Homo sapiens: one gene and its partners. The protein of the gene in region 1 purifies or fractionates together with the protein of each later gene. This does not show direct contact. Each region holds a gene or a part of one and is shown in the gene's direction. Other genes may lie near its edges.

Region 1 (4,131 bases):
TGAATAGGTAAGTGAAAAGCAGGGCAACTTCAAATGGTATACACATATACAGAGTCTTATCAGCGTTAAAATACCAAAAGCTTAAAAAACAATTAGCCAGGCGTGGTGGTGCGCACCTGTAATCCTAGCTACTCAGGAGCCTGAGGTGGAAGGATTGCTTGAGCCCAAGAATTCAAGGCTGCAGTAAACTGTGATCACACCTCTGCACTTCAGTTTGGGCCACAGAGCGAGACTCTGTCAAAAAAAAGAAAAAAGAAAAGAAAAAAGCCTTCCTCCAAGTTGTTTCTTCCTTAGAGTTGGCAATAATAGTGGAAAGGCGGTAACTTTGCTGTTTAGCCCCAGGGGAGGGATCAGCCCTGTGGGGAATTGGGCTAAGTTATCAGAGGTTACTTACTGCCCTTGCTAAACTCTAAAGAGATTCGTTTTTTAAAAACTGACACACAATATTTGGACATATGTATATACACAATGGAATACCACTCGGCCACTAAGAAGGAAACCATGAAGAGATTCCTTTTTAATATATGTAGCTGCATGCCAACTTGTCTCACGTTCCTCCTCTCCTAGAAAAAAAAAAATGTGGATTTTTCTGAAGCACCTGCCTGGAGGTACAGACAGATGATTGCGCAAACTTGAAGCTGAAAGTGGATGGAATTGCTGCCAGGGAGACTGTAGCATGAGCAGGAGCAGAATCCTGGGGAACACACTTTTAGGGACAGGAGTCAGAAATCTCAGAGAAGCAGGGGTTACTGGTGGGATCACGGAGCTGCTCAGGGCCTAGTAAAAGGGAAAGGTTTTAATATCATTTGGAGCCACTGTGGTTCTCCCAGAGGAAGCTCCTGTCATCCAGAGAGCGGTGAGCTCCCAAACAAGCAGAGACTTCAATTCCTAAACAGGCATAAGCTTCATTCAGGGTGTTCACTGGCCACGACCAGGGACGCCCAGCACCCAGTGCAGGGCCTGCCCTGGAAGAGGTCAGTAGTGCAAAGTTAGGGCTGGAACTGGGAGGAAATTCGAGCATGCGTCCCAGCCGGAGGCTGAGCTTGCGGGCGAAGAACACGGCAGCGCTGGGAACCGGGCTAGGGCTTTCCGTGTGGGCCGCGCCTGCCGGCCCTCTCTGTTGTCCCACTTGGCACGGACTGGGCTACCGCCACGGTTTGACTTCCGCCACCAGCAACCAAGGGAACCAGATCCCAAGGGAACCAGCACCCCTGGGCGCTCGCGGCCCGAAGCCTGAGGTTCCCGCCCCGCCCCGGCAGGGCGGCCCCGCCGACACCCGTAGCGGTCCCGCCCCCCGCGGCCGCACCGCCTCCTGCCTGGTCTCGGGTGCCAGCGCCGCCGGCGGAGAACAGGAGCATGGAGGGCGGGCTGGGGCGTGCTGTGTGCTTGCTGACCGGGGCCTCCCGCGGCTTCGGCCGGACGCTGGCCCCGCTCCTGGCCTCGCTGCTGTCGCCCGGCTCCGTGCTTGTCCTTAGCGCCCGCAACGACGAGGCACTGCGCCAGCTGGAGGCCGAGCTGGGCGCCGAGCGGTCTGGCCTGCGCGTGGTGCGGGTGCCCGCCGACCTGGGCGCCGAGGCCGGCTTGCAGCAGCTGCTCGGCGCCCTGCGCGAGCTCCCCCGGCCCAAGGGGCTGCAGCGACTGCTGCTTATCAACAACGCGGGTAAGACCCCGGGGCTGGAGCGGACTCCCCATGTGAGCGCCCACTTCCTCCACCGCTGGGGAATTTAAGGGCTACTCCTAGGGGTCAGATAGGACGCCTAGAAATCTAAAGCCCTAGTTGTTCCAGCTTGAGTAGCAAGTGGAGGCGAGGTGTACAGGAAGACTCGGTGCCGTCGGGACAACAGTCTGCCCCCACTTCCTGGAAAATTGGCCAGCCGGGTTTTCCAAAGCGCCTGTAGAACTTTCCCGAGCCCCTTGCTCTGCGCCCTCTGGCGGAGGCCTGAGTCAGGGCTTGGAGTCTCCAAACAAGTAAACTCTCTGCTTCTCCAAAGGACCGCTAGAGCTTTCCTTCAGCCCCACGGCAAGGCAGGTGCCTTCTCATTCTGCAGCTTGGGATGGCTAGGTTCCCCAGCTGTGTCTTTCCGCAGAGCTGGGGAAGAGAGAAGCCTCTTCAGAAGCGCTAGGCAGCTTCCTCCTCTAGGTCTGCATGGGAAGAGGATATCTGGAGGAACTTGGGAGGGCTGGGGAAGAAGAAAGCCCCGCCTGCACTGAGTTACTCCTAAGGGTTGGTTTTTCAGGCTCTCTTGGGGATGTGTCCAAAGGCTTCGTGGACCTGAGTGACTCCACTCAAGTGAACAACTACTGGGCACTGAACTTGACCTCCATGCTCTGCCTGACTTCCAGCGTCCTGAAGGCCTTCCCGGACAGTCCTGGCCTCAACAGAACCGTGGTTAACATCTCGTCCCTCTGTGCCCTGCAACCTTTCAAAGGCTGGGCGCTGTACTGTGCAGGAAAGGCTGCTCGTGATATGCTGTTCCAGGTCCTGGCGCTGGAGGAACCTAATGTGAGGGTGCTGAACTATGCCCCAGGTAGGTGGGAAGTCCTGCCGTCCCTGTCCTCCAGAACCCACTGGTGCGCCTCTGGGGGCTGGGCAAGCGGCCTAGTCCGCCCCCTCCAGGAAACAACCCACAGGATTTTGTCCTTGAATCTTGACCCATCACCCCTTAGGGGAAATACAGACCCAGGGGAAATAGAGGTGGCAGGGGCCGGGGATACTGGTAGAGAGTGAGGAGTTTCCTGGACTGGAGGGTGGGGCAGGAAGGTCTGAGGTATTAGATGGAGTTTGGGAGAAGACTGGGGTTTGAGTTCCAGGCCTTCCTCATGTGAAATGGGGAAGACGCTCCCTGCCTCACAGGGCACTTGGGAAGACTGAATGAGATACTGTATGTGAAAATGACCCTGACCTGTGAAGTGTTGCCTCATTGTTAAATAGGACTGACCACACTGTATTGTCTGCATATGTTTGCTTGCCTCCTTCCCTCCCTTGACAGGAAAGCCTTTGCACTATGCAGATGTGTGTTCCTAACACCTAGCAAAGCACTACACTAAGGCAAGCTGCAGGACATGCTAGCTGTATGGAGAGCAGACAGACTTTGTTGAGTGCTGACCATCCCTGGCTGAACTGTGCTGGAACACTATTGAGGATTCTGGGATAAATAGAATAGATCCCTTGCTCTCATGAACGCCAAAGGACAGGGAGTCTTGTGATACTGGGTCTAGTTTCTGATGCCACAGCGCCCCTGTCTTAATAGTGAGGAGTCTCTTTTAGGCTTGAGGTTGCTGCAATCAGAAGGTGGTGACAGAGCAGCCATGGAAAGCCTGAGCAACTTGGGCAGAAATCCAGTAGCCTGTGTCCCTGGGGAATAGGGTCAGGCTCCCAGGGCAGACAGGTAGAATGGCCTGCACAAAGCACAGATGTGGCAGGGCTGGATCCCACCTTGCTTTCAAGTTCTTCCTCATGTTCTCCAGTACCCCAGCCCCTACCACCCCTGCCCCCCAACACACATGCACAATTATTCTCACAACCAACATTCAACTCATCATCCACTCTGAATTCAGCCCAAGGATTCGCACAAACAACAGTGACCAAATGTAAGCTACAACCAGGAGCAGAGCAGACTCCAGAAGTCCACATGGCTGCGTTTGGTCTCAGGAGGCTGCCCTGGGCATTATGAGGGAGCTGAGATTTTCAGGAGGTCCCCAGGGCCTGAACCAAGGCAGAGGCCAGTCTGGTTTTCATTTCGGTCTCAGGAAGAATGTTCTAACAGGTGCTCAGAGATGGAATGGGCTGTTTGGAAAGGCAGCAAGTCCTCTCTCAGCAGGGATGCACAGGTCATTGGAAAATAGTCAAGGACCAGGAGATAAATTCTCCCTCCAACCCTGGAATTCTCTGATGTTCTGCCCTCGAGGACCATTAACTGCAAATATTGGGGTGCATGAGTGATTCCTATGTGAAGAATAGAACGTGCTTGCAACAGTTCAAGAAGGGAACAATTCCTTTAGGTGGGGAGACTAGAGATGGCTTTATTGGAGGTAGCTGAACTGGACATTGACCTTGGTTGTTGGCAGATGGAAGGCATTCCTGATGAAAGGAAATAAAGGTGCGAAGGCTCACTGTGGGCGTGGCAGGTC
Region 2 (3,500 bases), on another chromosome or scaffold:
CATGAGCCACTGTGCCCAGCCTGATTTAAATCTTAAGAAGATTGGGCCAGGCGTGGTAGCTCAGTCCTGTTGTCCCAGCACTCTGAGAGGCCGAGGCAGGCGAATCACCTGAGGTCAGGAGTTCGAGACAAGCCTGGCCAACATGGCGAAACCCCATCTCTACTAAAAATACAAAAATTAGCTAGGTGTGGTGGCAGGCGCCTGTAATCCCGGCTACTCAGGAAGCTGAGGCAGGAGATTCGCTTGAACCGGGGAGGTGGAGGTTGCAGTGAGCCGAGATGGCGCCATCGCACTCCAGCCTGGGAGACAAGCGAAACTCCATCTCAAAAAAAAAAAAAAAAAAAAAAGAAATCTTAAGAAGATTGATCTTAATGAAGCAATTGGGATTTGTCATCTCAGCCATTCCAGAGAAATACGGAAGAGTCGTGGTGGATGGCCAGAATTGCCTGTCCTGACAGACTGTTCTTTTCATAAATTATAACAAGAGGGCATACATATATTTTCAATGCTTTAAAATCTCAAACAAACAGAAGCAGAGAGATCATTAAAGTGAACCCCCATGTACTTAATATTACCAACATATTGCTATTGACTGTATTTTTTCTTGGCTCATGATTTTTCTTACAATTTTTCGTTGGCATTTTTTTCAGAGTTGCAGTTAAAGGGATTTTTGGATTGGGGTGGGGAAAACAGGGTTGATCTTCTTTTTGGATTATAATTCTGTGATTTGTGAAGAGAGTCTGGAAAGAAATACACCAGGATGTTAACTATGTGCAGGCAGTGAAGCTCTAGGTGCTTTTTTCTTTTTTTTTTAACCTTTCCCTACTTTTATTTATTAATTGTTGTATTTCAAGGGATGCTCATGTCTCTACCTTTCAGAATGTATACACAGAGACTCTAGATTGTTTTTTAAAAATCACACTGAAGTGTACTTGGGCTTCAATGTCTAAAATGCTCATCAGAGCTTAGTCTTCCGTCTAATTCTCAAAGCATTAATTGCCAGGTACTGTAAACTGGCTTAAAAAGAAGAGAAAAAGAAACTGAGTATCCGTAAAGATGCTAGCCTGTGTTGGCTTACCTTACAGTTTATACATTTTTTTGTTCTTGTGTTGAAGGTGACTGCTGAGGTTGGAAAGCTCTTGGGTGAAGAGAAGGTGGATGCAATTCTTTGCGTTGCTGGAGGATGGGCCGGGGGCAATGCCAAATCCAAGTGTGAGTCCTTTCCTGAGTCACTCATTTGTTCTGCTCTGCTCTTTTTCCAGCTGACAAGGATTGGGTTTGCACTAGGTGACAGGCCAGCTGTTTTTTTGTGTATATCCCGGAATCTTTACAGTTGCTCGGGGAGAGAGTGATTAATGCTCTTAATCCATTTTACGGATAAAGAAGAAGCTTCCCCTGGAGGACGTGAGGGGACGGGGGGCATTGAGTTTGAGTTTAAAGTAGAGGCAGAATGAAATCAGCATGGCCTGTGCCCCAGGCCATGTGCTATTCAGGCATTGGAGGATGTGTAGGAAGTGCAGAGATCATTTAGAAAGTCAGAAGAAGTCAAACTTGAGATTTTACTAAAGCTGATTCCTTTTTTCATCTTTTCTTTTCCCTTCCCTTCCCTCCCCTCCCCTCTACTCCCCTACCCTTTTTCTTAAGACAGAGTCTTGCTCTGTCACCAGGCTGGAGTGCAATGGTGTAATCTCGGCTCACTGCAACCTCTGCCTCCCAGGTTCAAGCGATTCTCCTGCCTCAGCCTCCCGAGTAGCTGATATTACAGGTGCCCACCACCAAGCCCAGCTAATTTTTTGTATTTTTAGTAGAGACGGGGTTTCACCATGTTGCCCAGGCTGGTCTTGAACTCCTGACCTCAGGTGATCCACCCCCTTCAGCCTCCCAAAGTGCTGGGGTTACGGGCGTGAGCCAGTGCGCCTGGCCCATTTTTCAACTTTTCATTATGAACATTTCTAAGCATACCAGAAAAGTTGAAAGAACAGTTCAATGAACACCCTTATATGCTCCATCTAGATTCAGTAACTGTTAACATTTGCTGTACTTGAGTTGAGCTTGTTTTCTTGTGCCTGTGTACTTTGTGCATTGTTTTTTGTTAACTGTTTGAAAATAAGTTTACACCTCACTATATTTCCGCGTGTTTCTCCAAAGAATAAGCCCGTCCTACATTATTATGGTACCATTGTACCTAAGAAAGTTAACAGTGATTATCTAAGATTAATGATATTGAGCCCATATTCAAATTTCCCCAGTTTATTCCATGTCTATTATAGTTCTTTTTCCCTAAACATATTCCACTCAAGGTTTATGTACTGCATTATGTTGTTTTTAGTCTCTTAATCTAGAAAATCTAGAATTTTTAAAAAAATCCCCTGTGATAAGACTTTTTGTCAAGTCCTTGGGAGTTTTCATATAGCATGTCTCACATTCTGAACTTGTCTGAACTTTTCTTTAAGGGGTTGTTTGACTTGTTCCTCTATCCTTGGTATTCCCCGTGAACTGGAATTTGGGTCTAGAGACTCAGTTAGATTTAGCATAAACATTCTTGTGGTGCGAATTCTTCCTGAGTGATGGTGTGTACCTTATATGACATCACCTGGGAAGCTCAGCATGGCAGCTTGCCCTACCCTTAGGGATGCCAAATTTGATGCTTGGTTGAGATGGCAACTGCCAGACTTCCATTATAAAGGTACTTTTTTTCTGTTTGCAGTAAGTCAGTCATCTGTGGGATGTGTGGTATTGTGGTATTGTGTGTGAATGTCCTGTTTCCCAAGTATTATACTTTTCACCCAGTGGTTTTAGTCCTTCGTTGATAATCTCTGCCTGAAGCACTTATTCAGGGGTTGGAAAATGGTAGTTTTCTAATTCTGTCATCCCTTCTACATTTATTAGCCAAAGCCATTTAAAAAGACGTTGACATTCTGTGACCCACATGTCAATGTGAGAGTGGTGCTTTGTGAGGTGATCAGGTTAGCAAAACAGCTTGATAACCTTTTTGTATGTTTTGGGAGCAAGAAATGATAAATGTGGATCCATCAGGTTTTTTTCCTAGTCTTTTTTAGTGGGGAAATGCAATTTCTTGTTTATCACCTACCAACCCCTCCTATATCAGGAGGACATCCTTTTTTGATCACCAGGTACCACATGCCCTTCGAGTTGCCCAGTTGGTGGTGTGACATATGTTACCATTTGTTCTTCCTTATGTCTCTGGCAAGGCCGGGGAGTTAAAACAAGTGTAAAATGGTTGTTATTTTAGCTTTCTTTTGAAGAGTCTTTAAAGCTAACATTAAACTTTCAGACATAAAATATGTAGCTCAGTAAAAGCTCTCTTTATAGCTGTACAGTAATAGGCCCTTGGATTTTTATCACAGAGAAAACCTGACGTAGACATATAGGTTCTTATTACAAATCTGATACCATTCATAAAATAAAACAATCTTTGAATTAAAGCCAGTCCAGCAAATCAGTAAACTCCAGGTTTATTTTGTAAAATTTATTGGCCA
Region 3 (4,031 bases), on another chromosome or scaffold:
CCCACCTAATGTTTGTATATTCAGTACAGACAGAGTTTCACCATGTTGGCCAGGCTGGTCTCAAACTTCTGACCTCAAGTGATCCGCCTGCCTCGGCCTCCGAAAGTGCTGGGATTACAGGCATGAGCCACCGCGCCCAGCCATACATTTAAAGGCCATTTTCTTTTCTATAAACTGTCCATTGATATCCTTTGCTTATTCAGATAAGCTGGGCATCTTTGTCTTAGGAACTATTTGTGCAATAAGTAAATCAACCCCTTGTCTATAAAATGAGTTGCAAATATATGGTATTTTTCCCGGTTTGTTGTCTTATGATTTTGTTAATTTTTTTTTTTTAAGATAAACATAAGCCTGGTATTTCCAGGCACCTGGTATTTCCAGGCAGTCTCCCATACAAGCCCTAACCAGGCTTAGTTTCCAAGATCAGATGCATTCAGGATGGTACGGTTAATTTTTCAATGGAGAATTAGTTGTACTCTTATGGCTTCTGGCTTTCGCACACATAGCGTATCACTTATTTATTGCTGCATAAAGAATTACTCCAAAATTGAACGGCTTAGAGCAACAGCAGTCAGTGCATTATCATCTCTTATGGTTCCGGGGTTGACTGGGCTCAGCCAGTGATTCTCCTAAAGGCTCTTTCTTGCAGTTTTAGCTGTAGTCAGGTGGGAGTTGGCCTGGAGTCACCCGAAGGCTTCCTCACTCATACCTCTGGTCATTGACGGTGGCTGTGAGCCGGGCCCCTGGCTGTGCTGTTGGCCTGAACACCTACACGTGACCTCTCTGTGTGTCCTGGACTTCCTCACAGCCTGGAACCTGGGTTTCTACCCTGGGCCAACCCAAGAGACAGAAAAAGTGGGGGCTTTCAGTCTCTTAAGGCCTGAGCCTGTGGAAACAGGACCCTGAGCGTGTAGAAAAAGCAGGGCTCCCATGAGGCCTTGGACGGGATACTGCCCCCTCTCCCCCGGGGCCCTGATTCCCCAGTGGCACGAGGCGCACCCCCCCACACACACACAAGGACACTGTGTAGGGTCACTGTTACTGTCACTCCCCGAGCACGCACAGTCACCGCTCAGCCGCAACCCGGCGCTCCCTCTCGCGAAGCCACACCCCCTGCGCACGCCGCGCGCGACGTCTCTCCCGCCCACTCCAGCCTGGCCCCGCCCCGGCCCAGCTACATTCCCGGGCCAGCTTCTGTACTGCCAGGTCCGGGTCGGCGGCTGCACTGCGGATGAGACCGGTGCGACTCATGAAGGTGTTCGTCACCCGCAGGATACCCGCCGAGGGTAGGGTCGCGCTCGCCCGGGCGGCAGAGTAAGAGCCTCGCGCGCCGTGGAGGAGGGAGCAGGGCGGTCCCAGGGACCGGAGAGCCGGGCGGGGCGTTTGGGCCTTGTGGCCGGCTGGGGCAGGCTTGGAGTTTTGGGGAGTCTCGGAGAAAGTTCTCTGGGGCCCAGTTCTCCTCTTAAGACGACGCTGGGACCTGCAGTTCCGGCTTTGGAGAGGGGAGATTGCCCCTGAGGCAAGGTCCAGGCTAATTCTCCACGCTCCCACAGGACATGTGGGGTCAGGGACATGGCGGTCACTGACCAGGCCCTTGGACGTTTGGCAGGGGGCTTTGATGACTCTTCTTCTTTATATTTACTTATCTTTTTTTTTTTTTTTTTGAGACAGTCTCACTCTGCTGCACAGGCTGGAGTGCAGTGGCTCGATCGATCGTGGCTTACTGCAGCCTCGACTTCTTGGGCCCAATCAGTTCTCCCACCTGAGCCTCCCGAGTAGCTGGGACTACAGGCGCAAACAATCACTACCGGCTAATTTTCTGATTTTTTTTTTGTAGAGATGGGGGTCTCACTCTGTTGCTCAGGCTGGTCTCAAATTCCTGGGCTCAAGCAATCCTCTTGCCTCAGCCTCCCAAAGTGTTGGGATTACAGGTGTTAGTCACCATGACTGGCCTGAGGACCCTTTAATTTTTAAGACAGGGTCTCACTCTCATCCAGGCTGGAGTGCAGTGGCACCATTATACCTCACTGCAGCCTCAACCTCCTGGACTCAAGAGATACTTCCACCTCAGCCTCCCAAGTAGCTGGGACTACTACAGGCATGCACTACCATGCCTGGCTAATTTTTTATTTTTTTCAAAGACGAGGGTCTCACTGTGTTGCCCAGGCTGGTCCTGAACTCCTGTACGAAGGGATCCTCCCACCTCAGCCTCCCAAAGTGCTGGGATTACAGGCATGAACCACTGCACCTGGCCCACCCTTGCTAAATGGAACCCTTTTTGTGGGCCAACCTTGCCAGGTGCTTCATATACATAAACTTTTAATCCTGGTAGCACTGTGAAGTCAGTATTATAATTCCCATTGCACAGATTAAAAACTGGAGGCTGGACTTAGGGTTAAGTTTCTTCCCAAAGCCATGCAGCTCCCAGGTGGAGGAGCTGGGGCTTGTACTCAGAAGTGTCTGACTGCTGTCTGATCACTGCATTTGATCAGGTTTGTGTTTCCAATGTTAGATAGGAAGAGGATGCAATCCAGCCTCAGCAGCCAGTTCTAGGGGCATATGAGATTTTCAAATTTTGTTCACTGCAACAAAACCTTTGCCAAGGACCCACTTTGTACTGAGCAGGAGAAGGTGGAAGGCAGCAACCGCGCCCATGGTAACAGTAGCTCACGCTGTACCCTGCTCATGGGGAGGTGGATGAAAGGTGGTCAGTGCCCTGGGCTCAGTCAGGAGGTGCAAGTAGCTATCCTGTGTCCTGCCACATAGAGGCTCCACACGTGCTGACTGTACTGAATTCCATGGCAAGGGCCAGGAGGCACCGTGCATCACTGGGACAAATATCTGGTTGCTGTGAGCTGCCGTGGAAGCGTTGGGTGGCCTTGACCTTATCTTTCCTGGCCCAGTCCAACTATGAGAGTTTTCTATTTCATGGACTCCACGGACAGGAAGAGATGCAACAGGCCATTGAATCCAGGCCCCCCACCTGAGGCACACCCTGCCCCCCACGGGCCTTCCCTGCAGTTGGCCGCCTGCTTGGCCGCCCAGCCCCTGTGAATGTGGGAAAGCTCTTCTCTGTGCTGACCTGAGAGCTGTCCCCATGCCTTCCCCCTTGCAGCTTAGGCTCTGCTGGGGGGCCCCTCAGCCCTTCACCTGTCACCTGCTGTCTCGGGACAGTTCTGAGACCACCCCTGCCTGACCCTGCCTCCCCTCAGCCAGCCCCGGGCAGCCTGAGGCCAGGGCCATCAGAGGCCAGGATTCCCAGCTGGGAGGGGCGGGGACAGGTGTGCGGCTCCTGCTTCTCCTGAGGGCCTCCCTTTCCCCGCAGCTGTGAGGTGGAGCAGTGGGACTCGGATGAGCCCATCCCTGCCAAGGAGCTAGAGCGAGGTGTGGCGGGGGCCCACGGCCTGCTCTGCCTCCTCTCCGACCACGTGGACAAGAGGATCCTGGATGCTGCAGGTGCACACTGGGTGGGCAGGGGACTTGAGGGTGGCTTGGCCCTGTGGGCCCCTCAGCCTGTGCTGCTGGCTCCTGGCTGCTCTGCAGTGCTGTCTGGGTTCTGAGGGCGTTTCCTGCGATACCAGGCCCGAGCGGGCAGATAGCTTGCTCTGGCACAGGCACTGCCCCTCCCTCCTGCTGTGAACCCCTTGGCGGGGGACCCTAGGAGGGCAAAGACCGCGGTGTGGAGACTGTGGGTGTGGGGAAGTGCATCCAAGGCCCTGGGTTCTCCAGCCCTGCCACAACCTTGCTCTGTGACCTCCAGCAAGACCCTGCCCCTTCTGGGCGTGTGCGTAGTATGAGGGAGGACCTAGCTCAGTGCCAAGCCCCAGCAGGATGTCTTTCCTCAACCGCAGCCACGGGTCTCAGCCCATGGAAGAATAAACCTCCCCCTGTGAGGCTGTTGTGACAGTTTTGAGAAAAGGTTCAGACTCAGAGGCTGCCAGATGGGAAGGGACCCTTGTGAGTCAGTGCTGAGCCGCCCCACATCCTGGCCTTGGCCTGGAAGCTTTGTGGTGTCCTGCTTGCAGGAGAGG
Region 4 (2,449 bases), on another chromosome or scaffold:
GTATATTAGCAAGGAAAGACTAAACACTGGCTTTTCACTCTGGGCTCGGAGGAAGGAGGCTGGCAAGAAGGACTGTGAGGCTTACTCTAGTGAAAGAGTCCAAGCTGTCTTCAGGCAAGACAGGAGCCTCTCTGGTTCATTGTCTCTGGTTCTGAGGGTGGTGCACGCTGAGCTGCGATAGGTAGGCATATTCTCACCTTTCCACCCCTGCTGTCCTCATCCAGGTGCTATGTGAGCTCATTAATGCACTGTACCCCGAGGGGCAGGCCCCAGTAAAGAAGATCCAGGCCTCCACCATGGCCTTCAAGCAGATGGAGCAGATCTCTCAGTTCCTGCAAGCAGCTGAGCGCTATGGCATTAACACCACTGACATCTTCCAAACTGTGGACCTCTGGGAAGGTGGGACAGGGCGAGGGGCTGGGTCCTGTCATCCAGGAGGCCAGAGATTGGGCTGGGCCCTCTTGACCAGGCAGAAGGGGCTGTTTTCTGGCTCCCTGCAGAGAAAGAGGGGTGTGTTTGTGTTCCATGGAGCACTTGGTCATATTGGAGGCTGGAATGGAGAAGGGTATGGAAATGAACAGTAGAAATAATTAGGAAGCCAGGCCTGCTGACTTAGCGATAGAGGCGGAACCCTGGTATCTAGGACACTGCGGAGGCTGACACATTCCCATTCTCCTTCCCAGGAAAGAACATGGCCTGTGTGCAGCGGACGCTGATGAATCTGGGTGGGCTGGCAGTAGCCCGAGATGATGGGCTCTTCTCTGGGGATCCCAACTGGTTCCCTAAGTAAGTATTGCTGGGACAGCCGCAGGGTCCAGCAGGTGCATTGTTTCTGCCCAATCCTGTCCCTAGGAAATAACTTATCTCAGTAGCAGCTGGCCCTTTACAAAGCACTTTCAGAAAATTCCTCATCTCACTTAATCCTCACAACACCCTCTGGGATGGCAAATGACTGTCCCTTTGGACAGATGAGGAGGTGGCTTCAGAGAGCTTATGGCTCTCGAGGGCAGAGCTGGCACCAGCCCTTGAGCCAACAGCAAAGCCTGTGCTCTGTCCAAGGAAGGGATTTACTAGGGCAGCCTGTGATCTCCTCTAACCACCACTCCCTTGTCACCCAGGAAATCCAAGGAGAATCCTCGGAACTTCTCGGATAACCAGCTGCAAGAGGGCAAGAACGTGATCGGGTTACAGATGGGCACCAACCGCGGGGCGTCTCAGGCAGGCATGACTGGCTACGGGATGCCACGCCAGATCCTCTGATCCCACCCCAGGCCTTGCCCCTGCCCTCCCACGAATGGTTAATATATATGTAGATATATATTTTAGCAGTGACATTCCCAGAGAGCCCCAGAGCTCTCAAGCTCCTTTCTGTCAGGGTGGGGGGTTCAGCCTGTCCTGTCACCTCTGAGGTGCCTGCTGGCATCCTCTCCCCCATGCTTACTAATACATTCCCTTCCCCATAGCCATCAAAACTGGACCAACTGGCCTCTTCCTTTCCCCTGGGACCAAAATTTAGGGGCCTCAGTCCCTCACCGCCATGCCCTGGCCTATTCTGTCTCTCCTTCTTCCCCCTGGCCTGTTCTGTCTCTGAGCTCTGTGTCCTCCGTTCATTCCATGGCTGGGAGTCACTGATGCTGCCTCTGCCTTCTGATGCTGGACTGGCCTTGCTTCTACAAGTATGCTTCTCCCACAGCTGTGGCTGCAGGAACTTAATTTATAGGGAGGAGCCTGTGGCAGCTGCTGCCCCAGCCACAGCTGCACTGACTGTGCTCACCACACATCTGGGGCAGCCTTCCCTGGCAGGGGCCCTCGTGGCTTCTCATTTTCCATTCCCTTCACTGTGGCTAAGGGGTGGGGTGAGGGGATGGAGAGGGAGGGCTGCCTACCATGGTCTGGGGCTTGAGGAAGATGAGTTTGTTGATTTAAATAAAGAATTTGTCATTTTTGAATGGACTCTGGCTGTGTCTGGGGCCACTGTGCCACTGTGGGGAAGGGAGGAATACTGGGCAAAGTGCAGTGAGTGATACAGGAAGGAGGGCAGAGATGAGAGGTTGCAGTGCTAACCCCTGTCTTGAGTTTCCTCCCCATCCTCATTCTCACTTGCTTTGGGGGGTGGTGTAGGTTGGAATTGAGAGGGGACAGGACCTCACAGCTGAATGCAGACTATGTAGGCAGTGTCCACAGGGAAGTAAGGCCCTTTCTAGTCAATGGAATTGGCTAATCCTGCCTGCTGCCTTTGGCTGGGTCTGCCTCTACAGTTGGAACAGCTTCTCAGTCACTGAGAGGGTGGGGCTGGCTGCTGGCACAGCCATCAGTCCTGGCAAGTGAAGCTGTCTCCAGGTGAGAGGTCCCTCAGGCGGGCTTGGGGTGAGGTGGTCTGTGTTGGAGTGGTGAGGGTGGGGGTTGCAGTGGTGAGGAAACGTGGAGAGCTGGGGAATGAGCAGGAGTG
Region 5 (3,500 bases), on another chromosome or scaffold:
ACCCAGTGATTCAACATAGGCAAACTTTGCACTGATACAGATCAGGTTTTTTGTTTTTTTTTTTTTTTTTTTTTTTAATGAGATGGTGTCTCGCTCTGTCACCCTGGCTGCTGGAGTGCAGTGGCGCGATCTCGGCTCACTGCACCCTCTGCCTCCCAGGTTGAAGTGATTCTTCTGCCTTTGCCTTCCGAGGAGCGCATGCACCACTACGCCTGGCTGATTTTTGTATTTTAGAAGAGACTGGGTTTTACCATGTTGGCCAGGCTGGTCTCAAACTCCTGACCTTAAGTGATCTGCCTGCCTTGGCCTCCCAAAGTGCTGGGATTACAGGCTTGAGCCTCTGTGCTTGGCCCCTAGACCAGTTTGTTTGAAAGGGGAAAAAAGGACAGGTAAAATGTGGTAAAGGGCATTCTTGATCTCTTCTCAAAACCTACGTGTGGGAAATGCAAATGGGGGAAATACCCTTGTAAATATAGTTATTTTGAAAGCAGTGGACCAGGTGTGGTGGCACACTCCTGTAATCCCAGCCTTTTGGGAGGCGGAGGGGGGTGGATCACTTGATGTTGAGACCAGCCTGGGCAACATGGCGAAACCGCATTTCTACTAAAAATACAAAAATTAGCCACGCATAGTGGTGCATGGCTGTAATCCCAGCTACTCGGGAGACTGAGGCAGGAGAATTGCTTGAACCTGGGAGGCGGTGGTTGCAGTGAGCCGAGATAGTGCCACTGCACCCCAGCCTGGGTGACAGAGCAAGACTCCATCTCAAAAAATAAAAATTAAAAAAAAAAAAAAGAAAGTAGAGAGGGTGCAGAGGCTGTGGTTGTCCAGAGTGGTATGTTGAACAGTGTTAACCTGCCAAGAGGTATCTGAGTTTGTAAAAGAAAACTATTTACAGTTGAAGCACATAGCATGTATGGAAATTAGAAATTTGGTGGTGGCGCTAGGGGAAAGGCCAAGAGATGTAATGGGGCTTTGAGCCTACCTGTCTAGCTAGCACTGAGCTTCACATTTAAGAGAGAGAGATGAGCACCTTCTCAAATAGTATGACTGAACTCACAGCTGCATTTCCTTCCTTGTGAGTAGTTTTTGGAGTTGTCTGCCTGTGAGCCCATTAACTCCCTGTCATCTATATAACAGCAGGATGGTTTTTTTGGTTTGTTTTTGTTTTGTTTTACCCTCAACATCTGGAGGATAGATAGGATGCCCTCTCAAAAGTAAAAAAGGCAGCTGGGCTGTGGTGGCTCACGCCTGTAATCCTAGCACTGTAGGAGGCCAAGGAGGATGAATCTTTTGAGCGCAGGAGTTCTAGACCAGCCTGGGCAACATGGCGAGACCCTGTCTCTACAAAAACTATTAAAAAAATTGCCAGGCACAGTGGCTCACGCCTGTAATCCCAGTACTTTGGGAGGCTGAGGCAGGCGGATCTCTTGAGCCTAGGAGTTCGAGACCAGCCTGGGCAACGTAGCAAAACCCCATCTCTACAAAAAATATAAAAAATTAGCTGGGTGTGGTGATACATGCCTGTGGTCCCAGCTGAGGTGGGAGGATTCCTTTAGCCTGGGAGGCAGAGGTTGGCTGTGAGCCGTGATCGTGCCACTGCACTCCAGCTTGGGTGAGACCCTATCTCTAAATAAATAAGTAAGTAACTAAGCTGGGCCTGGTGGCCCACGCCTGCAGCCCTAGCCCTAGAGGCTGCGGGTGGGAGGATTGTTTGAGCCCAGGAGTTCGAGGCTGCAGTGAGCTTATGATCATGTACCTGCACTCCAATCTGGGTGACAGAACAAGACCCTGTCTCGGGAGGAAAACAACAAAGGCTTATAATGGCAATCATCCTCAACAGTGGAGATGCTCTCTACCCCACTCAGGAGCCTGGTAGGTGTATATATTTCCAGCTGGGAACCACCAACAGATACGGTATATTTGAGACCTTTTAGCAAGGGCATAAGGTCCCTTGTAATCTGGGTTTCTTTCTTTCTTTCTTTCTTTCTTTTTTTTTTTTTTTTTAAGACGGAGTTTCGCTCTTGTTACCCCTCAGCCTCCCGAGTGGCTGGGACTACAGGTGTGCACCACCACACCTGGCTAATTTTGTATTTTTAGTAGAGACAAGGTTTCTCCATGTTGGTCAGGCTTGTCTCGAACTCCTGACCTCAGGTGATCAGCCTGCCTTGGCCTCCAAAAGTGCTGGGATTACAGGCGTGAGCCACCGAGCCTGGCCTACTGCCTGAGTTTCTAATCCAATATGTCCAGTTACTAATTGTGTATCCCAGGATACATCACTTAAACCTGTCTGTGCCACATCTGCACAGTTGGGATATTAGTAGAACAGTCCTATGGGATAAATTAATATATGTAGTATGCAACAATCTTAGAACAATGTCTAGTACACAGTAAGCAAATAAATGCTAGTTGTGTATAATTTTGTATGAATATATATTTATAGGCAGATCTCCCCTACTAGATAGACAGTAAATTCCTTGAGGATAGGGTGTGCATATGGTTCAGAGTGCCTGCAACTTAAGAGGATGCCAAATGTTTGAAATGAGATTGTGCCCTTCTTTCAGAGAATTCTGTTGTTGAGCATTTTGTTGTCAATGTATGTCTCTACCATGCTTTGGAATTAGAAACCACTTACTGAGATCCCGATGGTTGGAGCATCAAAGCATGGTTCTTCATCCTGATTTCTCTAGCCTCCAGTCTCCAAACCCAGTGTAATTTTATGTACTCACCTCTTTTTTTTCTCCATTTAATACTTCCAGTCTTTTTTTTTTTTTTTTTTTTGAGATGGAGTCTTGCACTGTTACCCGGGCTGGAGTGCAGTGGCACGATCTTGGCTCACTGCAACCTCTGTCTCCCGAGTTCAAGCGATTCTCCTGCCGCAGACTCCCGAGTAGCTGGGGTTACAGGCACCCGCCACCATGGCCAGCTAATTTTTTGTATTTTTAGTAGAGATGAGGAGCTAATTTGTATTTGTAGTAGAGACGGGGTTTCACTATGTTGGCCAGGCTGGTCTTGAACTCCTGACCTAGTGATCCACCCGCTCGGCCTCCCAAAGTGCTGGGATTACAGGCGTGAGCCACCGTGCCAGTCTTTTATATATTTACTAGTGTTTCTTCTTGGCTATGTCCAGAATTTGGGGAACCAAGATTTTTGTTTGGGTAAAACTAAATATTAACTCTTGAACCACAAATGAGAGTAATAGAGATGGGGTTTCTCCATCCAGCTTGGCCAACATGGCGAAACCCCGTCTCTACTAAAAATACAAAAATTAGCCGGTCGTGGTGGCGGGCGCCTGTAATCCCGGCTACTCGGGAGTCTGAGGCAGGAGAATCACTTGAACCCGGGAAGCGGAGATTGCAGTGAGCCGAGATTGTGCCATTGCACTCCAGCCTGAGGGACAAGAGCAAGACTCTGTCTCAAAAACAATCAAATCAAAAAACAGAAAGTAATCCCTTTGCGGAGTTCAGTTTTATGGGCTGGAATTTAAACTTGTTGTTGTG
Region 6 (3,500 bases), on another chromosome or scaffold:
TATACAAAAAAGATATTTGCATACACATGTTCATAGCAGCACAGTTTGCAATTGCAAAATCATGGAACCAACTCAAATGCCCATCCATCAACGAGTGGATAAAGAAACTGTGGTATATATATATGATGGAATACTACTCAGCCATAAAAAGGAATGAATTACGGGGCCAGGCATGGTGGCTCACACCTGTAATCCCAGCACTTTGGGAGGCCAAGGCAGGTGGATCACCTGAGGTCAGGAGTTTGAGACCAGCCTGGCCAACATGATGAAACCCTGTCTCTACTAAAAAAATACAAAAATTAGCCGGGCATGGTGGTGCATGCCTGTAATCCCAGCTACTTGGGAGGCTGAGGTAGGAGAATTGCTTGAATCTGGGAGGCAGAGGTTGCAGTGAGCCGAAATTGTGCCACTGCACTCCAGCCTGGGCAACAAGAGTGAAACTCCCTCTCAAAAAAAAAAAAAAAATAGGAATTAATTAACGGCATTTGTAGTGACCTGGTTGAGATTGGAGACTATTATTCTAAATGAAGTAACTCAGGAATGGAAAACCAAACATTGTTTGTTCTCACTGATATGTGGAACCTAAGCTATGAGGATGCAAAGGCATAAGAACAATACAATGGACTTTGGGGACTTGGGGGGAAGGGTGGGAGGGAGATGAGGGATAAAAGACTACAAATAGGGTACAGTGTATATTGCTCGGGCGACGAGTGCACCAAAATCTCACAGATCACCACTAAAGGACTTATGTAACCAGATACCACCTGTACCCCAATAACTTATGGAAAAAATATATTTGTCAGCTGAGCACAGTGGCACATGCCTGTAGTCCCAGCCACACAAGAGGCTGAGGCAGGAGGATCACTTAAGTCCAGGAGTTCTTGGCTGTAGTGTACTATGCCAATTGCATGTCCATGTTAAATTCAGCGTCAGTATGGTGACCGCTCAGACCTTAGGAGCTGGGGACCACCAGGTTGCCTAAGGAGAGGTGAACTGGCCCAGATCGGAAACAGAGCAGGTCAGAACTCCCATGCTGATCAGTACTGGGATGGAGCCTGTAAATAGCCACTGTACTCCAGCCTGGGCCACAAAGTAGAAACCCATCTCTAAAAAAAAAATAGGTAAATACACACAGACACACACACACATATTTGTCAGTGCTATCCCTTCTTCACATCCACTACCAGTACTTCCTCCTTTATCTTACTGTCTCCAGCTCTCCCCTTTAGCCTACCATCCTTCATTGTGCTACTTGAAATCTTTAATGACTCTCGCTGCATACAAGATAATGTTTATTCTCTTTACCATACCACAGTCTGACCCCAGGCCACTTTTCTGGTCTTAGTTCCCACTCCCCTCACAAAAACACTTAGCCATATACAAATATTCCTGGGCATATTATGCCTGTTTATGTTTTTGTTTATATCACCCCTTTCCACTACTTGTCTCCCTGGTAAATTCTTATCTATTTATTCTTCAAAGCCCAGTTCACATGTTACTTATATCAAGAACGCTTTCTGGGCAAAATTAACTGCTCTTCTCCAGCTTTTGTATAAATTTTATTCTATAATAGCACTTACTAAGTTGTATTGTGGTTTTGTGGAGGGGGGTAAGTGTCTCCTTAAAAAGCAGTCAGCTCCTTAAGTTCACAATATTAGTTAATGCCAGTTGCCATAGCAAAACAACTCAGAAATGTTTAACGGCTCAAATAGGAAATAAATTTATTTCTTGGTCCCATACAGTCCCAAAAAGGTTCCCAGTTAGCCAGTGGCCCTCTGCAAGTAATGATGTATGCTCCTTCCATCTTGTGACTCTACCCTCCTGAAGGCTTTTTTTTTCAAGGTTGCATGCTCAGCTCGATCAATCCAGCAGGTAGAAAAGAGCATGGAAGGGATATTGCATGGGAGGTTTTCATGGACCAAGTCTTCTGTTGCATTGGCTGTCAATTCAGTCATAAGTCACCCCTCACTGTAGGGTGTCTGGGAAATTAACTGTATGCCCAGCAAAATAGAGGAAATGGGTTTAGTAACTAGATAGCCATTCTCTGATATAGGCAGATACCAGATTCATCCTCACATCCTCACCTCTAGCACACAGAAGGCACTGAATATTTATCTTACATATAGTTAATATCTTTAAAGAGGCAAATAGACAAACAGATGAGTAAGAGAAAATGAAGTAGTAGATGTCCATGTCCTCTTTTAAATTGGTGCCCCCTTTTTTCTACTGTGCTGTGATTTTCAAAATGTAGTTTCTAGGCAGTTTCCTTATAATGCTTTTGTTGAAAATATAGCCAGGTGCGGTGGCTCACACCTGTAATCCCAGTACTTTGGGAGGCCAAGGCAGGCGGTTTGAGACTAGCCTGGGTAACATGGTGAAACCCCATCTCTACCAAAAATACAAAAAAAATAGCCAGGCATGGTGGTGTGTGCCTATGGTCCCAGCTACTTGGGAGGCTGAGGTGAGAGGATTGTTTGAGCCTGTGAGGGCAGAGGTTGCAGTGAACTGGGATAGTGCCACTACACTCCAGCCTGGTGACAGAGCAAGACTCTGCAAGAAAATAGTAAGAAAGAGCAAGAAAATATAATAGCATGTTATATAATTCGCCCATGACACCAAAGGAAAACAAATGTTATATTACTACTTGCTCAAAAAGTATTCTTCACAATACTGAAATTTCCTCCATAGCACACCAGCCCTAGACCAAGTTAATGAAAGGGGTAGAGATGGTTTATTGAATCTTCTGTCTCGAAGATTTGGGAATCACAGTACTGGTTTATCACATAGAATCATGGGTAATCATTAGAGCTATACCTAATTTACCAGATTAAAGATATGCAGCTGTTGGATGTTAACTGCCATCCAGGTGGAACAGGTCATTTTTTTAAAACTTCTTATCAAAGTATAATATATAAACAGGAAAGATCACATACCATAAATGTACAAAGTCATGAATTTTCACAAATTGAACAAGGCCCATAAGCAGCATTCAGATGAAGAAACGGAACAGTATCAGTGTCCCAGAAATCTCCCTTGTGCTTGCTTCCCCTTCAGTTGAGTACTGTCTTGGATTCCTGGAGTGAATTGATGCCAAGGATTTCAAATATATGAATTCTATTTAATTTTTGTTTTACTGTACTCTGATGGGAATCTGTGTAAAGATTTAAGGGGAAAACTGACAAAAAGAATCAAAAACAGACACATTTTAAAAATGACTAGTAGTAAATAATCTTTTCTCAAAATATAAATTCTCATTAAGCTAAAGCCTGGATAAAACATTTAATTTCCTGATGAATGTGGTTTTCAATTTCCACTTTTATGAAGTCAGAAAAGCCCAACTGTTTTCAATATTAACATGTAATATTTTAAGCAAAACCTTTGTTAAGCTAGCTAGTGAAAAGACATTTGACAGAGTTCAACTCTATATAAATAACAGCACTTAAGAGTTTTGTTCAGTGAAAGTTGCATAAATAGAAGGTTAAAATCTGCCTCAGTCCTCA
Region 7 (3,500 bases), on another chromosome or scaffold:
CTCTGTTGGTGATCTTGAAGGGATGAGGAGTGGGGAGGCCAGGAGTGGATACAGGGATGTTGCCTCCCTGTGGGTGTGTAGGCCATGGTTCAGCTATCACCCTTATCCCACAGATACTCTCAGCTTGGTCTGTCTGCAACCTTCCTGGAATACATCAACTGCACTGGAGAGATGTTGATTGGAACACACTTGGTCTTGCCCTGTGGGACTTAAATTCTTTTTGTTTTCTCCCTAGGAAGCCCAGAATTCCCACGTGTACTGGGTGAGTGTCACTGTCTGGGAGAAGGGGAGCTTGTGGGGTGTGCCTGGGGGTCAGGGTGGAGGTGGGGGAGCCCACCTTCTGACGAGAGCGGAACCTGTGCAGTGCATGTGTCAGCTTTGTTGACTTTTGCTTTGCACAGAATTCTGAGGAGGGTTACCCAAATTTTATTTTTTTTAAACTCTCTCTCCCACACCCACCTCAGTGGCGCTACTGTATCCGTTTGGAGAACCTTGACAGTGATGTGGTACAGCTCCGGGAGCGGCACTGGAGGATATTCAGTCTCTCTGGCACCTTGGAGACAGTGCGAGGCCGAGGGGTAGTGGGCAGGGTGAGCATCCTTGGTCTAGTAATTCTGGTCCTGTGTGGCAAGCCTGGGGGCTTAGCGCATGGCTTCCTTCTCCTTTGTTGTTATAGACAGAGGCTCACTTTGTGAATACATTGTGTTGTTTTGGGTTAGAAATCTTAAAACAACTACATGAGATATGTTTCTTGAAACCCATTTCATAGATGAAAAGAGTGAGACTGAGAAGTTAAATAACCAGCCCATGGTCCCATAGCTAGTAGTGGCAGGGCCTCAATTTAAACCCAAGTGAGTCTGAAGTCAAAACTTGTGTAGTTTTTAAAACTGGTATAGTGTCTTTTAAAAACTAAAATTTGAATGTCGTTAGGTGGGGCACACACCCCCACCAATCCCTGTGGTCTTGCCTCTTTGCCCCTTTACATGTTTACATCCTCTGCTGGTCCTTGAAGAGATCTGATTTTATAATCCCTGCCTACCCAACCCTGTCTCCTGAGAAATAAAGTCACAAGCAGTACTGGTGTCAGGGGCCACATTCAACAAGCATTTATCAAAGTCAGCGAGGACTGGGGAGGCAGTTGGGCAAGTGAATAAGAACAAGGCTTTGGATTTAGGTAGTCACTTCAAATTCCAGCTGAGTTATATATTAGCATAACTTTCGGCAAGTTATTTAACCAAAATCTTAGTTCCTTACTCCTAAAATGTGGATCACACCAGTTATCTTATGATCATTAGGAGAATTAAAGCAGCAGAGGTTTGCAGAGTACCTGCCGTGGTCCCCGCCAGCATGTGTGAATGGACACTGGAGGGGATATCTCCACAGGAGGTCCTTTGTTTTTAGAGACAGGGTCTCGCTGTGTCACCCAGGCTGGAGTGCAGTGGTGCGACCATAGTTTACTTTTCTGGGCTCAAGCAATCCTCCGCCTCAGCTTTCTGAGTAGCAGGACTACAGGCACACACCACTATGCCTGGTTAGTTTAAATTTTTTTTTTTTTTTTTTTTTTTTTTGTGGAGATGGGGTCTCACTGTGTTCCCCGGGCTGCAGAGGAGGTCCTTTGCCCAGTGCCTTCGGACATTCAGTCTGAGATTATCTTTCCCAGAGCCAGCATAAAAGGCCCAGCCAAATGGCCATCTATGGGAGGAGGTACTGGCAGGAAGTGTATCATGCTATGGGAGTGCCTGCTGTGGTGGTGGCTGGGTAGGGGACATCCAGTCTTGATGAACTGGCAGTCAGCATGTAACCCTGGGGTGCAGGAAACATGTCCCTGGGGCTTGGCCTGACCCATTTTGCCTAAACCTTTACAGGAACCAGTGTTATCCAAGGAGCAGCCTGCGTTCCAGTATAGCAGCCACGTCTCGCTGCAGGCTTCCAGTGGGCACATGTGGTGAGTGAGTGTGCACAGCAGTAGGGGCCACCCAGCTCCACAAACAGAAGCTGTAGGTCAGAAAAGTGAGAGCTTAGAGCTTGCCATTAACTCTGGGCCAAGTTACATTCTTAGAGGGAGCCTTATCTGCTATATTGTTGTGTGGGACTTGTCTGATTTTCTATTACCGCCTGTTTCCCAGTACCCTGTGATTTGTGGACTGAGGACTTAGGCTAAAGAGGTCTGGTGATTTGATGCTGCAGAATTGCTTGTATAGTTGGGTTTTTTCCCTTGGTGTTTCACTCCTTTACCTGAAAATGCAGTTGGCTAGCTTATGCAGTATGTATCTAAAGGCCAGAATCTGGACAGCTGTGTTTTCCTTTTTTCTTTTGTGAGATGGAGTTTCACTTATTGCCCAGGCTGGAGTGCAATGGCACAATCTTGGCTCACTGCAACCTCCGCCTCCCAGGTTCAAGCCATTCTCTTGCCTCAGCCTCCCGAGTAGCTGGGATTACAGGCATGCGCCACCACGCCCGGCTAATTTTGTATTTTTAGTGGAGACGGGGTTTCTCCATGTTGGTCAGGCTGGTCTCAAACTCCCCACCTCAGGTGACCTCAGGTGATCTGCTGGCATCAGCCTCCCAAAATGCTGGGATTTCAGGCGTGAGCCACTGCAGCTGTGTTTTTCTTTTCATGGATAACCATGAGGGGCTCTTGGGTCTCTGGACCAGTCATCCTGTCATGAGCTAGAGATAGAAGAGAGCTCAGGCTCACATGTCCTCTGTGGCTGGCAGCTGAGGGCATGGGGCCATCCAGATCCTTAGGAGGCCTCAGCCCTGGCTCCTTCTAAACCAGCTTCTTTCTGACTGTAGGGGCACGTTCCGCTTTGAAAGACCTGATGGCTCCCACTTTGATGTTCGGATTCCTCCCTTCTCCCTGGAAAGCAATAAAGATGAGAAGACACCACCCTCAGGCCTTCACTGGTAGGCCAGCTGAGGCCCCAAGTGCCCAGGCTTGGTCACCGGGAAGAACAACTCTCATCCCACAATTGCTGCAGAACTCTTCTCTCCCCATCATGGGCCACAGTGGGTCTCTTAATTTGATTGTGGGGTTCTTTTTGTGGGGAGGGGTGGTATAACTTTTCTTCAGAAGACCCATGTGGGACACCTCCAAGGCTGGCCTCCTCATAAGCCCTGCCTACACCATGTTCCAGTAAACCTCTCCACCAAGGAACTGTGTTCAGCTGCCACAGGCCTGGAGGAGTTTCCTGGCCTGTCACGTGAGGTTTGATCAGTAAACCAGTGCACGCTTGGCCACCCTTGCCATTTCTGCTCCCAGAGTCTCAGGCTCCCCTTCTGACCCAGTGTGCGCCCTTGACTGCTTTCTTTGCTGCCCTTCCAGGGAGCTGCCCCCCTGGTAGGGCATGTGCCTGTTTCCCTCTCAGCCTGGAGGCTGGCTGGACATCTCCTAGGGTCACTGTGCCTCTCAGCTAGTTGGCGGGGGTGCTGGACTGGACTCTTGTTCACTTTACCTTCTGCCAAATGCAGAGAGGGAGGCCAGTGTCAGGGTCGGAGTG

What was found.
Region 2: the proteins of SPR (region 1) and QDPR fractionate together in Homo sapiens (co-fractionation; one large-scale study listed by BioGRID). This does not show direct contact.
Region 3: the proteins of SPR (region 1) and GRHPR fractionate together in Homo sapiens (co-fractionation; one large-scale study listed by BioGRID). This does not show direct contact.
Region 4: the proteins of SPR (region 1) and TAGLN2 fractionate together in Homo sapiens (co-fractionation; one large-scale study listed by BioGRID). This does not show direct contact.
Region 5: the proteins of SPR (region 1) and CLIC4 fractionate together in Homo sapiens (co-fractionation; one large-scale study listed by BioGRID). This does not show direct contact.
Region 6: the proteins of SPR (region 1) and LACTB2 fractionate together in Homo sapiens (co-fractionation; one large-scale study listed by BioGRID). This does not show direct contact.
Region 7: the proteins of SPR (region 1) and POLDIP2 fractionate together in Homo sapiens (co-fractionation; one large-scale study listed by BioGRID). This does not show direct contact.

The regions. Positions count from the first base shown.
Region 1 is NC_000002.12:72,886,077-72,890,207, forward strand, and holds the start of SPR (sepiapterin reductase), read left to right. Parts: upstream 1-1,331; 5' UTR 1,332-1,356; coding exon 1,357-1,660; intron 1,661-2,237; coding exon 2,238-2,528; intron 2,529-4,131. UniProt on the Homo sapiens protein: Catalyzes the final one or two reductions in tetra-hydrobiopterin biosynthesis to form 5,6,7,8-tetrahydrobiopterin.
Region 2 is NC_000004.12:17,502,091-17,505,590, reverse strand, and holds part of QDPR (dihydropteridine reductase), read left to right. Parts: intron 1-1,115; coding exon 1,116-1,212; intron 1,213-3,500. UniProt on the Homo sapiens protein: Catalyzes the conversion of quinonoid dihydrobiopterin into tetrahydrobiopterin.
Region 3 is NC_000009.12:37,421,520-37,425,550, forward strand, and holds the start of GRHPR (glyoxylate reductase/hydroxypyruvate reductase), read left to right. Parts: upstream 1-1,231; coding exon 1,232-1,314; intron 1,315-3,325; coding exon 3,326-3,456; intron 3,457-4,031. UniProt on the Homo sapiens protein: Enzyme with hydroxy-pyruvate reductase, glyoxylate reductase and D-glycerate dehydrogenase enzymatic activities. Reduces hydroxypyruvate to D-glycerate, glyoxylate to glycolate, oxidizes D-glycerate to hydroxypyruvate.
Region 4 is NC_000001.11:159,917,611-159,920,059, reverse strand, and holds the end of TAGLN2 (transgelin-2), read left to right. Parts: intron 1-224; coding exon 225-399; intron 400-683; coding exon 684-786; intron 787-1,118; coding exon 1,119-1,260; 3' UTR 1,261-1,949; downstream 1,950-2,449.
Region 5 is NC_000001.11:24,748,447-24,751,946, forward strand, and holds part of CLIC4 (chloride intracellular channel protein 4), read left to right. Parts: intron 1-3,500. UniProt on the Homo sapiens protein: In the soluble state, catalyzes glutaredoxin-like thiol disulfide exchange reactions with reduced glutathione as electron donor. Can insert into membranes and form voltage-dependent multi-ion conductive channels.
Region 6 is NC_000008.11:70,652,186-70,655,685, reverse strand, and holds part of LACTB2 (endoribonuclease LACTB2), read left to right. Parts: intron 1-2,933; exon of another isoform or gene 2,934-3,175; intron 3,176-3,500.
Region 7 is NC_000017.11:28,347,528-28,351,027, reverse strand, and holds part of POLDIP2 (polymerase delta-interacting protein 2), read left to right. Parts: intron 1-235; coding exon 236-262; intron 263-464; coding exon 465-590; intron 591-1,529; exon of another isoform or gene 1,530-1,865; coding exon 1,866-1,945; exon of another isoform or gene 1,946-1,995; intron 1,996-2,698; exon of another isoform or gene 2,699-2,796; coding exon 2,797-2,911; 3' UTR 2,912-3,500. UniProt on the Homo sapiens protein: Involved in DNA damage tolerance by regulating translesion synthesis (TLS) of templates carrying DNA damage lesions such as 8oxoG and abasic sites.